2 separate regions of the Homo sapiens genome follow, and region 2 is reported to be linked to region 1. Evidence: microRNA targets listed by miRTarBase, many of them from high-throughput screens and not tested one by one. Region 1 holds a microRNA gene; the other region holds the end of a gene's coding sequence.

Region 1 (7,336 bases):
GGATGGAGTCCTGTGTCCCCTGCCCAAGCCCCAGGGGTGGCCTCAGATGTGGCACACTGAAGAGCCTTGGTTACCTTTTCTGGGACTGTCTGCTGGCCTCACAGGGCTGCCAGGAAGGGCCGCATCCCTTGCTCTACCCTATATAGGGAAATGCCTCCTCCTGGGGTGACCGGAAGGGCTGGGACATGCACTACATCTGGGGCCAGGCAGTAATGAGGACAGCTGAGAGCTGTCCCAACCCCCAGGAGTTGCCTCCTCAAGGCCCCCAAGAAGCCCAGCGTAGCTCACATGAGTTCACGAGATCATCCCCGTGATATTATAGGACTAGTACTCACAGTTGTCATCAAGCTCCACCTATGTGCCACACCCCATCTTCAGTTCTGAACCCACGGTCTCGGCCCACAACAGTCCGATAGGATCGGTGTCATTACACCCATTTTACAGAAGAGAAAAGCAAAGCTCAGTGAGGCTGAGAGACCACAGAGCCACTACGTGTGAGTCAGGCCTGGACTCTAAAGTTGTCTTCTTTCTTCCCACCAGCCACAAGCTCCTGCTTTCTGAGGGGAGAACTGACTTTCAGGGAGCTGGGGAGTCTCTGCAGCTTGGCCAGGATCTCAGCTGCTGGGTAGGGCTAGGGAGAGCCAAGCAGACCCACAGAGCCAGAGTGCCAGGAGCTGCAGCCTTAGTAGGTCTGCTGGGTGTCCTGTGCAGGGCTGAACCTAGAGAAGCCTTGAGGAGAGGGTGGGACGAGTCACCAGCGCTGATGTGTTCAGGTTCCTGGAGGTCGAGAAGGGCGGTAGGGGACGCCCTGCCCAGGATAGGGGAGCCCCTCCCAGTCCTGCCCACATGCTCCTCCACTCCTCATATTGCCTGGGAAGTGAGAACCACCATTCCCATTTTGAGGCTTCAGCACTGGGGTTGCAGGTCCCAGTCTGTGAGCCCTGGGTAATGGAGAGAGGCAGGTTTGGGCCAATCTAAGCTCCCATGGGGTTAGAGAGATGGATTGTGGGAATGCATCCCTCTCAATGGATGGGACAGCTTCCTTCTCTTCCTGCCACCTCTCCCAGCTGCTGATTGACACCGCAGCAGCCCTTCTGGAAAAAGAATGGTGGACAATGTGTCTGAGTGTTCTGCCCTGGGGATGGAGGTGGTGACACCAACACACCCATCGAGGCCCTGTCCACGTCTTCGCTTCTCCAAGTGGAAGACCGCGTCCTTGGACCCCAATCCTTTCGGGTACACATCCACCCTTCCCTTGGGGTCACAGCCCCAACACTGAACATGGCTGTCTAGTGAGACACCTCCCTTACTGATGCTAAGAACAGGAGGATGTTAATTCAGGACAAGGGTGGCTGGGATGGGAGGCAGATCTAGTTCAGCCCCAGTGTTGGGTCTCTGCTTCCTCCTGCATAAGTGGAGTGACAATGCCTACCCTCATGGGTTATCGTAAGCTTACGTGACAAGCGTGATATGTACTGTCAACAGTGTGGCTCTGTTCAATCTTAAATAAAGTCACCCTTGCTCATGGCATCACAAGGTGTCTGGCTGGGGTGCCTTTTGGGTCATGGGCCTCAGGGACCGGAACCAGCTCTTGGAATGACATCATGCTATGACCTCGGCAGAGGGGGGTTTAGGGCTCTAGGTGAGGAAATGGCACTCACTGCACCAGGACCCCCAGGCCATCTGCTGTCTACCTGTTCCATGGGCACCTACTCTGGCTAGGCTGGTGTGGGTGTGAAGGCCACTATGATGTCTGAGACACCCTGCTCCTGGGAGCTTCCAGCCCAGTGAGGGAGGCTGAGCTGTGGCCCTGGGTTCTGGGCCTCCTTGAGTAGAGGAAACAAAGGCCTGGGAGCCCAGAGGCCCAGATGAGCAGCAGGGAACCTGTCCCCAGGGGCTACTCAGACCTGTGGAGTGTGGGCTACTCTTTATCAAATGCGAACTAGGTCAGGAATGTCTGGGGGCAGTGCCTAGGGCTTCTTCATCCAACAACACACACTGCTTGTCTCTGCAGATGCTCAGTAAGTATTCATGGATGTTCAAGATAACCCATGGCTGGCGGGTAGTGGGGAAGCTGGACATGGGCTTTGGTGTCACCTTCCCAGAACAAAACAGAAACGCAGACTCCCAGGCAGACATGCAAAGAGAGGAGGCAGACAGGCAGGTGACAGGAGACAGAGGGGTTGGGTAGCCCAGCCACTGCCCACCTGGCATGGGTGTGCTCACCGGTGTCGTGGATGAACCTCTCGATCTTGGACTGCATGCCCCAGTAGCGGAACTCCACCTTGCAGAGCTTGTATGCGCACATGATGGGGAAGACCTGCTTCTTGTACTCCTCGATCCAGTTCTCGGACAGGGGCCCCCGCTGGGTCTTGGTTGACTGGAACAGCTTGGGGTCCTCTTCTGTCTTATACTCGTTGTGGGGCACAGGGTCTTTGACAATGTCGATGAAGTCTGTGGGTAAACCCTTAGAGTGGCCACTTCTGCCCTGACCTCAACCCCCACCCACATCTCTCCATGTTCCTCCACCCCCAAATCCTCCCAGGACTCTGGGCCTTGCCCTGCCAGAGGGACCCTGGGAGTGAGGATCATGTTCTGGGCAGCTCTGACCTCAAAATCCCTGACAGTGGGGCCTGCAGTTTCCTTGGTGCATTCATTCATTCAGATAAGGGTCTTGCTATGTTGCCCAGGCTCAAGCACTCCTCCCACCTCAGCCTCTCAAAGTGCTGAGATTACAGGTATGAGCCAACGAGCCTGGCCCCTTGTTGCCTTTTCAAGTCATTTCAGCAAAACCCATGTTCTGAGTGCACCCTACCTCTTGGCAAAGCAGATAAATAAGGCAATGAGGAAACACTGGGGAGATGAATTTCCATGAAGAATACAGGGTGGGAGGAACAGAAGAGAAGGCTAGGAAAAGCTTCCCACAAAGACGGTGTTTCAGCCAGAGGGGTGGAATCAAGAGGTCAAGAATGTCCCAGCAGCACCGGCCCTTGAACAAGAGGTGGGGGGTTCTGGGGAAGGAACCACCAGGGTGTCTGCGTGAGGAGAAGGATGGCAGCAGTCACAGAGCAATGGGGATGCCCTGGACATGCCGGCCACTTCTCTCCAAGCTAGGAGACCGGACAGTTCCCTGAGAGCCAAGTGGACCCAGGTATAGATCTGAGGCTGAGAGGGATGCAGGCAGGCTGGCCTGTTGGAAAAGCCTTCCTGGACAGAGACCGGAAGAGATGTCTGAAGAGGCCTACAGGGGGTGTCTGGCCAAGCTTGCTCCAGGCTAGGCCTGAGAGCAGGGGCAGATGCCACAGAGGTAGGAGTGCAGAAAACAGGCTTAGGGGCTGACAGGACCTGGTGAGGGTGACAAGAAGATGGGTGATGGCTCTGGGCAGGACGTAGGCCAGGCCACTTATGATCACAGGCTTCCCCTCCACAGCAGCATCTCAGAGCCCTCCTGTGTGCTCACTCCCGAGGCACATGTGTGTTGGGCAGGACTGGGGCACTCACTGGGTGAGAAAGAGCCCCAGTAAAGGGTTTGTGGCTCACAGAACCCTTTTTTGCGGTCGGTTCTGCTCTAGCCAGGCCCTTGGCTGCCTCATTTTCTCCAATGTGTGGGCCCCTCTGTATCCAGGCTGCAGACTGCAGACACAGACATCAGCTCCACCAAAATCAGCAGGGTCAGGAGCAAGTCTGAGGACCACAGAATGCCAGGAGGGATGAGCACTCTTCCTGGAGCAGACCATATGCCCTGCCCATGTGAGCCGGCAAAGACCCTGCATGGGAAATGTCACAGAGACTTAGGACCCATGGCAGCTGGCCTCAGAGGGAGCCTGCAGAGCTCTGGCAGTGTCAGGGCTGCCTGCTATGGGAAGAGCTATGTACACCCCAACCCCAATTCCTACGCTGACGTACTGAACACAGTGCCTCAGAATGTGATCTTATCTAGAGATAAGGTTTTCAAAGAGGTAATCAAGTTAAAAGTAAGGCCATTAAGGTGGGTCCTAACCCAGTATGACTGGTGTTTTTATAAGAAGAGGAGACAAAGAGGTAGACAGACACAGAGGGGAGTGACCATGTGACGAACGAGGCAGAGATTGGAGGGATGCTTCTACAAGTCAAGGAGCACCAAGGACTGCCGGCAAGCAGACACTGAAGGGGCCTGAACAGAGTCTTCCCCAGGGGGAAGAACCCACCATGCTGTGATCTCAGACTTCTGGCCTCCAGAGCCCCGAGAGAATAACTGTGTGTTGTGCAAGCCACTCATGCTATGACGCTTTGTTTCGCAGACCCAGGAAATCCCAGCAGAGGTGGGGGGGTTGGGCCTGGAGCAGCTCCTGGGCCATGGACACCCACCCCCAACCCGCATGCCCTGCCTGAGATGCCTCCACAGTGACTTGGGCCTTGTACCCAGAGGCTGCAGGAGGGTGGCTGCTGAGCTGCACTGGCCCACATATGTGTTTTGTTTCACTGGCATACATTTATTTACAAAGATTTTTAATTGGTTGCTAACATTTAGTATTGGGAGATTTCTCATGAACATCCTTATCACTGGCTTCTCTTGAAAATGAAGATTTAACAAATGGGGCCCATCCCCTACATGTCACTGTCATCTGGAGGTAGTGGGTAGGGCACCCACCATCAAGAGGACATAGACCCCATTATGTGCCGGGGGCACTTGTGCATGGCTGTCAGCTAGAGATGGATGCCCGAGCCCATATGTACTTCTGGGGAGTAGGGATCCCGCAAAGGGATGGAGGGAAGCAGCTCTGGGTGGAAAAGGCACTTGGACTTGGTGTATATATCAGGAGAATGGGGCTGAGAAGGCCTGCCCTGCCTCCCCCATGGGCCCCATGCTTGCTCCAACTCTGACCTGCCTGCCCAGGACAGGGCCAGGTCTGGAGTCTACCAGGTGTGGGGAAAAGGGGCAGGACAAGAGGGACCTGTGGGTAGGAAACCCAGAGTACAGCCCTGTGGGGCTCTGCCCTTCCTGGTTACCGATTGTCAGCTGGTTCTTTTCCACAGGAGAGAGGTTGAACACGTCGGGGTTTTCTCCAGCATCAGTTTTATAAAAGGTTTCAATGTCGATGGAGAATTTCTCCACGAAAGGACAGGTGAACCTGTGCGGAAAGGAAAGCACTCATCAGGACCTGTCCTTGGAGAGGCCCAGTGTCCTGGCCAGGGCCTGTTGACCCACTGGGTAGGAGTGGAGCTGGTGAGCGGGCATGGAAGGAGGGTGGAGGGTAGCCGAGACTTGCCTGCCCTGTCCACCTCTTGGATCGCCACTTTGTCCCAAGAACAGCCAGGATGGGGGCAGGGAAGGATTTAGGGGGAGCAGAAGACAGTGTATCCTCAGTGGCTTCTAGAAGCCCCATGTCCAATGTCCACAGCATGGCAGGAACACGGGCACAGCTATGGCAGCATACTGCCAAGCAGGAGGAAGCTGGGGTGCTCCATGGGGCATGCCACCTCTAGTTCCCAAGAAGCCAGCTCTGACAATGGGGGAATAGCCTCTCTCTAGGCTGGAGATGAGCTTAGAGGGGAAAGTACTACTGGGAAGAGGAAAAAGCTCCGTGGATCCCTCAGCAAGCTCCAGGTGCCCACCAGCGTGGGGAAGGGAGCCCCAGGAGATTTGTGGGGACCCCACCTGCTCAGCAGTAGACAGCTTGTGGGACCAGCTCCCATCTATTCAACTCAGCAGTGATAAGCTACACACTGCAGGGCACAGAGTGAAGAACCCTCTGCCAGGGAATCCCAAGGACAGCCCTGCTCAGCATGGGATGTGGGACAACACTGTCACAGCAGCTGAAGGTCTCAGAGTTGGAAGGGACTTCTGGGTCATCTGTTCTACCCTCAGTTTCTTTCCAGAAGGCTGTCTCAGCCTTCTTAGGGAGCCTGAAGTGGGTTTACATTCCCTGCATCTTCTGGAATGGCAAAGGAGTCTCCAACAGCCCTCGCTTGACTCACGCCTTCATGGCCTCCACACGTAGGCAGTCAGGAGGCATCTAGGGGTATATCCTTCCCTCTCTTGCCTGTGCCTGCCCTAGGTGACCTTCGGGGCACCTGTATGGAACAAAGCCTGGGTTCCCTGGGGTTATGGGTTGTTGAACCTGCTTGAAGGCTGATCCCATCCCCTGGATCTATGCCACAAGATTGCTTCCCGCCAGATGGCATGTGGAGGTGGGAGGCACATGGAGGCCAAAGCAGGCGCACCTGGTTCGGGTGTAGGGGTAGGCATTCCAAGACTCCTCCACCACCCGCAGGGCTGCCTTGGGCAGGATGGAGCGGAACCAGCTGGGAATGTGCATGCCCACATGATACACCTTGTGTGTGTACTGCCCAGAGCCGCCTGGGCCATCTGTGTACGGCCGGTTCTCCAGGATCTCCACGCCGCTGCCTTCGCCATATGTCTCGTTACGGCTCTTCTTCTGTGGGGACAAAAGCACCTGCAATGTGTGTGGGGCCAGAGCACTCTTCAGGAGGGAAGGGGCACAGGAGACTGGGCCCAGGGGTGTGGAAAGGGAGGAGGGGCTTTGGTCAACGAGGCTGGCTCCTCCTGTGTCACTTCCAGGCCCCCAAATCTATATGCCAGGGCTTGTGCAAGAGGCTGAAGGGGCCACAGACTCCCTCTCCCAGACCTAGTGCTGCACACACAAGTCCTATATTCTGACTCCCACCTGTCCCAGGACTAAAAGCGTTCCCAAGATCAGGAACAAGACAAGGATGCCCACTTATTTGCTTTTCCTCAATATTGTGCTATAAGTTCTAGCTAAAGCAATTAGACAAGAAAAGGAAATAATAAGAGGCAACTGGGCACATTGGGTCACGCCTATAATCCCAGCACTTCAGGAGGCTGAGGTGGGCAGATCACTTGAGGTCAGGAGTTTGAGACCAGCCTGGGCAACATGGTGAAACCTTGTCTCTACTAAAAATAGAAAAATTAGCCAGGCATGTGGCACATGCCTGTAGCCCCAGGTACTCAAAGGCTGAAACAGGAGAATCGCTTGAACCCGGGAGGCAGAGGTTGCAGTGAGCTGAGATCACGCCTCTGCACTCCAGCCTTGGTGACAAAGTGAGACTCTGTCTCAAAAAACAAACAAAACAAAACAAAACAAACAAAAAGAATAAGAGGCATCCAAATTGGAAAGATAGAAGTAAAACTATTTCGATTTCCTGATGCCATAATCTTATATATGGAAAATGCTAAACAATCTCCACCAAAGCCTGTTAGACCTAATAAATAAATTCAACAAAGTTGCAGAATACAAAATGACACATAGAAATGAACAATGTCAAAGAAAATTAAGAAACAATTCCATTTATAATAGCCTCTGAAAGAATAAAT
Region 2 (7,336 bases), not on the chromosome of region 1:
TTTTAAAAATAACTGTGCCATACAATCGAGCGGTGATCAAAGCTCATGTAATTAGGGCTAAGTCGTTCCCGTTGGGAGAGGCTATTGTGGGACTTGTGCGTCGGGCCAAGGGATGCTCTGGGCTCTGCTGTTGGAGCAGAGGAGGGAGCTCTGCCAGGCGCGCGGGCCTTTGCCCTCTTTAGGCATTGCTCCTGCTTGGGGGTCCGTGACAGACATCAGGTTATGCCATCAAGAGCCCCACGTGAAACAACTGCCTCCAAGTGGTGCAGGCGGGAGAGGCGGCCGGAGGATGGCAGGAATAAAGAGACACCCCCCTTCCGACAGGGGCCACCTGCCGTTCTGTCGGAGGAGTTGGGTTGGCAGCCGACAAAGCTGCTGCCCGCATCCTGCCCATCCAGTAAAGGCCTCGAGCCCTCACAAGGGGGCGCCCAAGAGGACGGCCACCACCCACCCAGAAGGGCACAGGTAGAATGTGGTAGAAGTTTGATCTCACTTCAGATGGGGGGGAAAAAAAAAAAAAAAAGTCGCCTGTTCTTGCAGCTTCCCTCCCTCTTTCCTTCCTGCTCATACATTTGGAATAAATGGCCGGAGCTCTCCTGTACCCCTGCCTGTGTTAAGCGACCCTGAGAAAAGCGTGTTCTCTGCCTCTTCCAACCCACTCCGTTTCCCGTGGTTTCTGTGACTCCCCTGTTCCCAGAGGCCTACCCCAGGTGGGCAGAGCACAGGGAGAGGAAGTCCCTGAGAGCCGGACGCAGCTCGGCCCTGGCCTGCCCGCTTCTCCCTGACCACAAGACCAAGCCCGGCTGCACAAGCCCTGTCCTGTTAGAAGGGACAGTGGAGCTCCTACGTGAGAAAGTGTTGGAAGAAATGGTGAAGAGTCCACTGCCTTCTGCTGCTGAAAGCCTGACCGAGAGGGGCGTCGGCTTCAGACTGGACCCCACACTGCCCCCGGGAGCCGTCAGCCGCGCTCATCACCTTCGTCCACGTGCCAGGTGAGTGGGCGCCCGCGGCTGCCACCAGCGTCCAAGAGTCAGGGCTGAACAAAACACGTCCCCATTCATTCCCGCTGGTCACAGACCACTGAAGGAGGCCCACGAGACAGACTCACAAAGCGCGGTGAGGGCCCTTGAACGGGAGATGGTCTTGGACTCGAGAAAGACGTGTTGGCCTTTGCTGAGAAGGGGCGGTTCAGTCATGCTGTATCCAGAAAACCAGGCACACTGTGGCGGGCAGAGCACCCTGCCTGAGAGAGAAAATGGACACTGGGCCCACAGTCAGGAGAGCCAGAGCTCTCGGCATCAGAGGAGCCCCAGGGTGGAGCCACGTGACTCCATGCCGGGCTCAGTTTCCATGTGACAGAAGTGCGTTCATTAAAAAGCCCAGGGAGCAGGCATCGAGGGAGGCCTCAGTGGTGGAATCTGGTAGGTGTCGTCTCTGGTTAATCTTGCGAGAGCTCGGGCCCCTCTCAGAGAGGGCAGGAGGTTGGACGGGCCTGGCTGCCGCGGACCCTCTGAGGGCCATTGTGGAGCCGCCGGGGGAGGCAGGGGCCGCCGTGTTTGCTCGACTCCGGTGACTATTTGGATTTGCCTCATCGTCACGGGAACACTGCAGCGGGGAAGAGTTGGACTGAACGCGTGGTGACCCCAGGACGCTTCTTGGAAATTGCTTTTTAAAATAAACCCCTGACATCAGCCTGTTTTCATTTGCCTCCCTACCCAAGAAGCTGAGTTCAAAAATAAACCTCCATTCTTCCGGGTTCTCATTCATCAAGGTGCTGCTGTAGGATGTCAGAAAAGGGAAGGCTCGGCCGGCCGTCTCCACCCGCGATCTGCATCTGTTTTTAACAGCGTTCGCAGGCCAGGGCTCTTTACAGTCAAGCCGGAAGTGTTTCCTAGATTACCCTGCGGTGTTTATCTTTGACAGCCTCGTGTTCCAAGAGCCATAAATTTGCTGCTGCTTTAGGTTTCCTTGAAACTGGGCACCTCTGTGTGCAGTTGCCCCACAGGGATCACAGCTAGATTTCAGCTCTGGAGCAGCCTGCGTGCGGGGTGAGCTCCAGAGAGCCCTTGGGTACAGGGCGAGCCGGTTCCCGGGGCCTCTCCCAGGACGGCAGCCAGGCCCCCGTGAGTCTCTCACTCTTACTGGAGCTGCAAAGCCAGCTTAGAGGACGGGCCGTCGTTTGCTTCCAGCACACAGGCAGGCAGACCCAGTTCAGGTCTATGAGCCCCGTCGCGAAGCCCTGATTCTCTCCGTCTTCACGGGGATAAAAATATTCCTGTGCAGGCCTCGCCCTCCTTTTATAAACAAAACAAATCAGTGAAGCCCCAGCAATCACGGGGGTGTTTTCGTTGGCACCTCACCTAAGAGTGCCGGCCACCCACCCAGGCCTCTCCTCAGAGTCCGAAGGAGCTGCACGGGCCAGAAAGCCTCCTGGTTATCAGAACCGAGGGGCGTGGGTGCCGGTGTGTGGGGGCTGCTCAGGGATCAGGGTGCAGGCCTCCCGCGTCCGTGCGCCTTCTTACTCTCTTCCTGCTCAGACCGCTCCAGCTTGCTTTTAGAAAGCTGCACAACAGCGGGAGAACTCGGGGTTCAAGCAAGAACAGACTGCGCCTCAACTTCCGCTCTGCCGTTTCTGAGGCTCCAGCCCTTCCCAGTCCCATCTCGACAGCCACAGCCATATGGTGGGGATGCAGCCATCTGCCTTACAGGTCATTTCGAGACTCGATGATGATGTAAAAAAATTCCGTTACATAGGAAGGACCCCTTAAGCGGTGGAGTTGACTGACCCACTAGGGAAGACTTGCCTGTCCAGGTGGGCCTTGGGCAGGGCAGCCGGTCCCTCTCTCCGAGGCCTGGCCGTCCCTGCCTGGTGGGTCTGCAGAGCAGCTCCCTTGGCACTGTATGGAGACCCTCTGCGTGTAGGTGTGTCCCTGGAATGTTCTAGCCTCCCCCTTTGAACTTGGTGGGATCTAAATTTGGACTCCCAGCTTTATCACTCGTGCTTGACTAAGCCATTTTATGTTTAAGGCTTTTGGAGATTTCGTTCATCGGGGAAAGGTCTGAAGCAAATATTAACAGGTCGGCATCCCTCCCTCCTCACCCATGCTCTGGAAACGGGTGGTGGCAGAGCTCCACTCACTGTCCCGTGCCCTCAGGGTTCACACCATGGACAGGAGTCAGGATGCTGCTTCTCCCCTCTCCCCACTCTGACAATGAGTTTGGGCTTTTTGGGGAGGAAGAGAGGGAAAAGAATGAGATTTCGGAAGAGGACTGCGGGGCTGCCTGAAGAGAGATTTGCCTCAGAGGGGACACTGCTTCTCACCCCTTCATCATAGCATGGCTGTGACGTGGGAGTGTGTATTCTAGCCACTTCAGAAGGCATGTGTTAGCTTCCCCAGACTCATCGCACACACAGCAATACAGATAACATCTGTCATGACCTGAAACTATTTTTAGCTCCATGAGGCCCCGCTGACTTGGCTTACCAAGATGGGTGAGGCTCTCCGAAGAGAGGTCATCGTCAAGCTGGAAGACCCATCCTTGTGAATGCAGGGGCTTCTGACAGATGAGACGAGAAAGCAATTCAGTGGACTTTGCACGTGTTTAAAAACTGAAAGAACCGTGGCCCTGTGTGTCTTGGAAACCATCATCTCTAAATTTAATCTCAGTTCAACTTCTGCAGCACTTAAGTTTAGAAAGATTCGTGAGCTGTGACCTTCCTCGAGAAGGCAGCCCTCATTCTCTCTCCTCTGCCTTGCGTCTTTCCTGGTGACTGTCCCAAGTCACTCTTCACCACAGCACAGACAGAACCTGGGGCTAACACGGGGGAGAGGAGGGAAACCAATTTCTCTTCCTCAAAGTTGCATTTCAAAACAGTCCTTCTAACAGCTGTCTTAAAAAATTTCACTGACATCTGCAAGTTGGTAAACGCTGCGGATAAAAGGAGTTTTTTTTAGTGGTTTGCTCCTTCCCACTTCAAAACGCTTTTTTGGGACACACATCACAGCTGAGGGTCAAAGGACACGGGTACAGAGAGCGCCGAGGCTTTGGTCATAACCCCAGTGGGCTCCCACCCTCAGCATGAGCCAGGCATTCTATTTTTATCACCTCTGTTTAATCTCGCATCACTCCAGCGGTTAACCTTTTGCAGAAGATGAAGGAAATCGGAAAACAGGTCAGGCCACCTCGCAGGTGCACCAGCCAAATCCCCACAGTGAACGCCGAGTGGGGCTGACTGACTGTTCATGAATGGCCACAGCAATATTGTGTTGTCTCACATTCCCTGCCACGTCCCCTCCCCGTGAACCTGGGGTGGGGTCCTTGTCACTGCCGCCGTGGAGTGCAGGAAAGGTGACGCTCTGTGACGTGAGGCCGAGTTAGGAAAGGCCACAGAGCTTCCATCTGACCCTCCCGATGTCCACCTTAGGAGGGCAACCGCCATATTGTGAGGAAGCCCAGGTCCCTTTCTGAAAGTGACCCTCTTTTTTTCGTCTCCCCTCTTTATTCTGGCACAGTTACCTCCCAGGTCACTGTCATGCCCTTTAGAAGCCATGCAAAAGAGAAGGGTATGGATGAAGGTCCTAATGCTACATCTGAGCTTCTCTGAAATCAACACATACTTGTCCCTTTGCATTTTCCGGGACTGGGACCAGGAGCCTGCTGTCTGGCTCTGGCTGCCCTGTTTGTCGGGTTTCCTCACGGTATGGCAGCTGCCTTCCTAAGAAGATGCCCCTCCTCCATGGAGAGTCTCACGTGGGCAGGAACCAAGGCCTGAGATTCCCAGCCAAATTCCACTTGGCAGCCGTGTGAACGAACACTCCAGTCGAGCCACAGGGGCAAACCGTCTCCACCGAGCTCTGCCCAAGTTACAGATTCATGAGCTAGACTGTGGTGATTTTAAGCCACTAAGTTTTGGGTGGTTGTTTGCAGCAACAGCCACCAGGCTCCGGCTTTCACCTTCTGTTACTGCAGGGTGCTCTGCCGGCACCTTCCATTGGTCACTTTCTGAAAGGCCTAGCTCTTCATCTCCCCTCCCAGGTCACTGTTACGCCTTTTTGAAGCTACGCAAAAGAGAACGGGACGAAGATCCTAATGCTACTTCTGAGCTGCATCTTTGCTTCTCTGAAGTCAACACGGAGTGGGACCAGGACCGGGAGCCTTCAGTCGGCCTCCACCAATGTCAGATTCACAAGGAAGCCTCAGCCCACCTCACCTGCATAGCCCTTCTAGTTTTAGTTTTGTATTTTGTTTTTCTTAGAAGCCCTCCATAACCGTGTGAGCCACCCACCCACAAAAGGTCCAAGCTGCCCTGTTCTTGCCTCTCTCCAGATGAGGGTGCGCGAGCTGTGACCCCGCCCTCGTCACTCCGAAGGGATTCCGCTGTCAGAACCGGAAGTCTCTCTCCCAGAGACCCTCCACCACAGGCTGAGGGGGTACGTGTGACAATAAAAGGGTCAATTCCTCAGGAAGACACAACAATCAAATGTGCAGGGACGTAAAGGAGCTTCAAAGTGCAGGAAGCAAAATCCGGCAAAACTAAAGGGAGACAGATCAAACGCCCAGCCATGGCAATAATACCCCTCTCTCAGCAACTGACAGAACTAGACCGAAAAAAAAAGGAAAGACAGATCATCTGATCACCACCTCCAGCTACTTGGTACTGACAGCGCGGCCACCTTTGCCAAGAAACTGTCCCAAAAACATCACCACAGTTGATCTTCCCCACGGTGAGCTGTAGCCGCCTCAGGAATAAGGGGGCCTCTGCCCTCAGTGCACGTCAGACACCCTCACCTCCTGCAGTGTTTGTCAGAAGAGATGCCTGGAGAGCCCCGGTGAAGTCCGTCAGGATCAGGATGCTGTTAGCGCCACAGAACGTGACAGTGTGTGTGTGCATGTGGTTGACGCCTGAGATGATAGAGACAAAACCCCGTCACTTCCCCGTTAGGGAGGAGACTCAGCCTTGGAAGCTGGGTGGCAGTGTGGAGCCTGTGTGCCCCCGGGGTCACTCCTCATCTGAGCCAGCCTCTCCAGCTCCAGCTATAAATAACTGAAGGGCAGGCCCACAGCCTGGAAGGAGACAGGACGCACGCTGCTTCCTTCTGCCTCTGCAGGGGAGGGGGCTCTGTCCCAACCTCAGCACAGTCCGGCTTGTACTCCACGAGAAGCACCCAGGATCAGGGAGGCCTCTCCATGTGTGCAGGCCCCTGGGAGCGGCTGGCTGGGACTCAGGAGTTGAAGGAGGCGCCTGAAGACAGGTGGTCTGTGGCTTCTCCAAAGAACTTTTTTTTTTCTGGAGACAGTCTTTCTGTGTGGCCCAGACTGCAGTACAGTGGTATGATCACATCCCACTGCAGCCTCGACCTCCTAGGCTCAAGCAATCCTCCCACCTCAGCCTCCTGAATAGCTGGGAACACAGGCATGAACCACTTCATCCAGCTAATTTTTTAATTTTTCTTTTGTAGAGGCAGAGTCTCACCATGTTGCCCAGTCTGGTCTCAAACTCCTGGCCTCTCAAAGTGATGGGATGACAGGCCTGAGCCACCACCCAGGCAGACCCTTCCTCTTTATCCCTGGCAGGTCAGTAGTGGCCTCAGCTACTGGACAGTGCTGGCCAGCATCCTTAGGGAAGGAGACGTAGGGCAGCCCCTGCTGTACTAACTCTCTTCCCCATCCCAGGGACGGGGGGCCGACTCTGCTCTGGCGAGTTTTCGGGCACTCAGCTTCCTCCTCAGGGAGGAGAACTTGTCCCCCAGCACCTTGCGCAGCCCCACGCTGTCCCTGCTGCTGGGTGGGTCCTGCCTGGTGGCCGGGAGCTGGCCCGTGAACATCTCCCAGCGGTCGAGGGCGTCCACGGCTCTGTCCACCTGCACCAGGTCCTCCTCTGCCACTTCCCGCTGCAGGGCCTGGATGCACATGGCCAGCCACCGTTCATGCTCCTTGATGGCCTCCGCAGGGCCCCCAGGTGGCAGCGGAGCCTCTGAGGCTGCCAGGTAGCTCAGCCCTTCCTCTGGCCCCGAGGCGAAGGTGTGACTCCCGGCATCAGGGGTGAGGGGCTCCGACACACTGGTGCCGGGCTCCGAGTCACTCTCACAGCACATGCCCGAGTCGGCGCTGGCAGGCGGGGTGTCCTCCCACACTGACGGCTCCCCCGCCTCCTGGCTGGGCCACGTCCCCACCACCGCCTGAGTCCAGGTGTAGAGTCTCTAAGAGGGAGAAACACAGGCTGAGTTTGCTCCGTGCCAGCCCTTGTCTAGCCAGGGAACTGCCAGGAGACCTCCTTACCTAAGGGGACCCCACCGTCCTCAGTTACCCAGGGGCGGGAGTCAGGCTGGTGGTG

What was found. Region 1 holds the annotated microRNA hsa-miR-4304 (CCGGCAUGUCCAGGGCA, at 3,079-3,095, opposite strand). A microRNA usually pairs through its seed, bases 2 to 8, with sites in the 3' UTR of a target mRNA and lowers its output. Matches are read on the target gene's strand: a 7mer-m8 pairs with bases 2 to 8, a 7mer-A1 pairs with bases 2 to 7 and ends in A, and an 8mer does both.
Region 2: miRTarBase lists AMZ1 as a target of hsa-miR-4304. Seed matches in the 3' UTR shown: 7mer-A1 at 3,080-3,086 and 7mer-A1 at 1,293-1,299.

Annotation. Positions count from the first base shown.
Region 1 is chr12:123,007,624-123,014,959 of GRCh38, forward strand. MIR4304 (microRNA 4304) reads right to left here and starts at 3,105; the gene lies at 3,044-3,105. It overlaps PITPNM2 (phosphatidylinositol transfer protein membrane associated 2), which reads right to left. Exons shown (of 26, transcript NM_020845.3): 4 at 6,205-6,419; 5 at 4,990-5,111; 6 at 2,227-2,454. RefSeq lists an enhancer at 3,939-4,859.
Region 2 is chr7:2,712,196-2,719,531 of GRCh38, reverse strand. It overlaps AMZ1 (archaelysin family metallopeptidase 1), which reads right to left. Exons shown (of 7, transcript NM_001384743.1): 7 at 1-7,202. The coding sequence ends at 6,654. Among named protein-coding and RNA genes, the nearest start is that of AMZ1, 28 kb to the right of the region's middle. RefSeq lists an enhancer at 3,906-3,955 and a silencer at 6,191-6,390.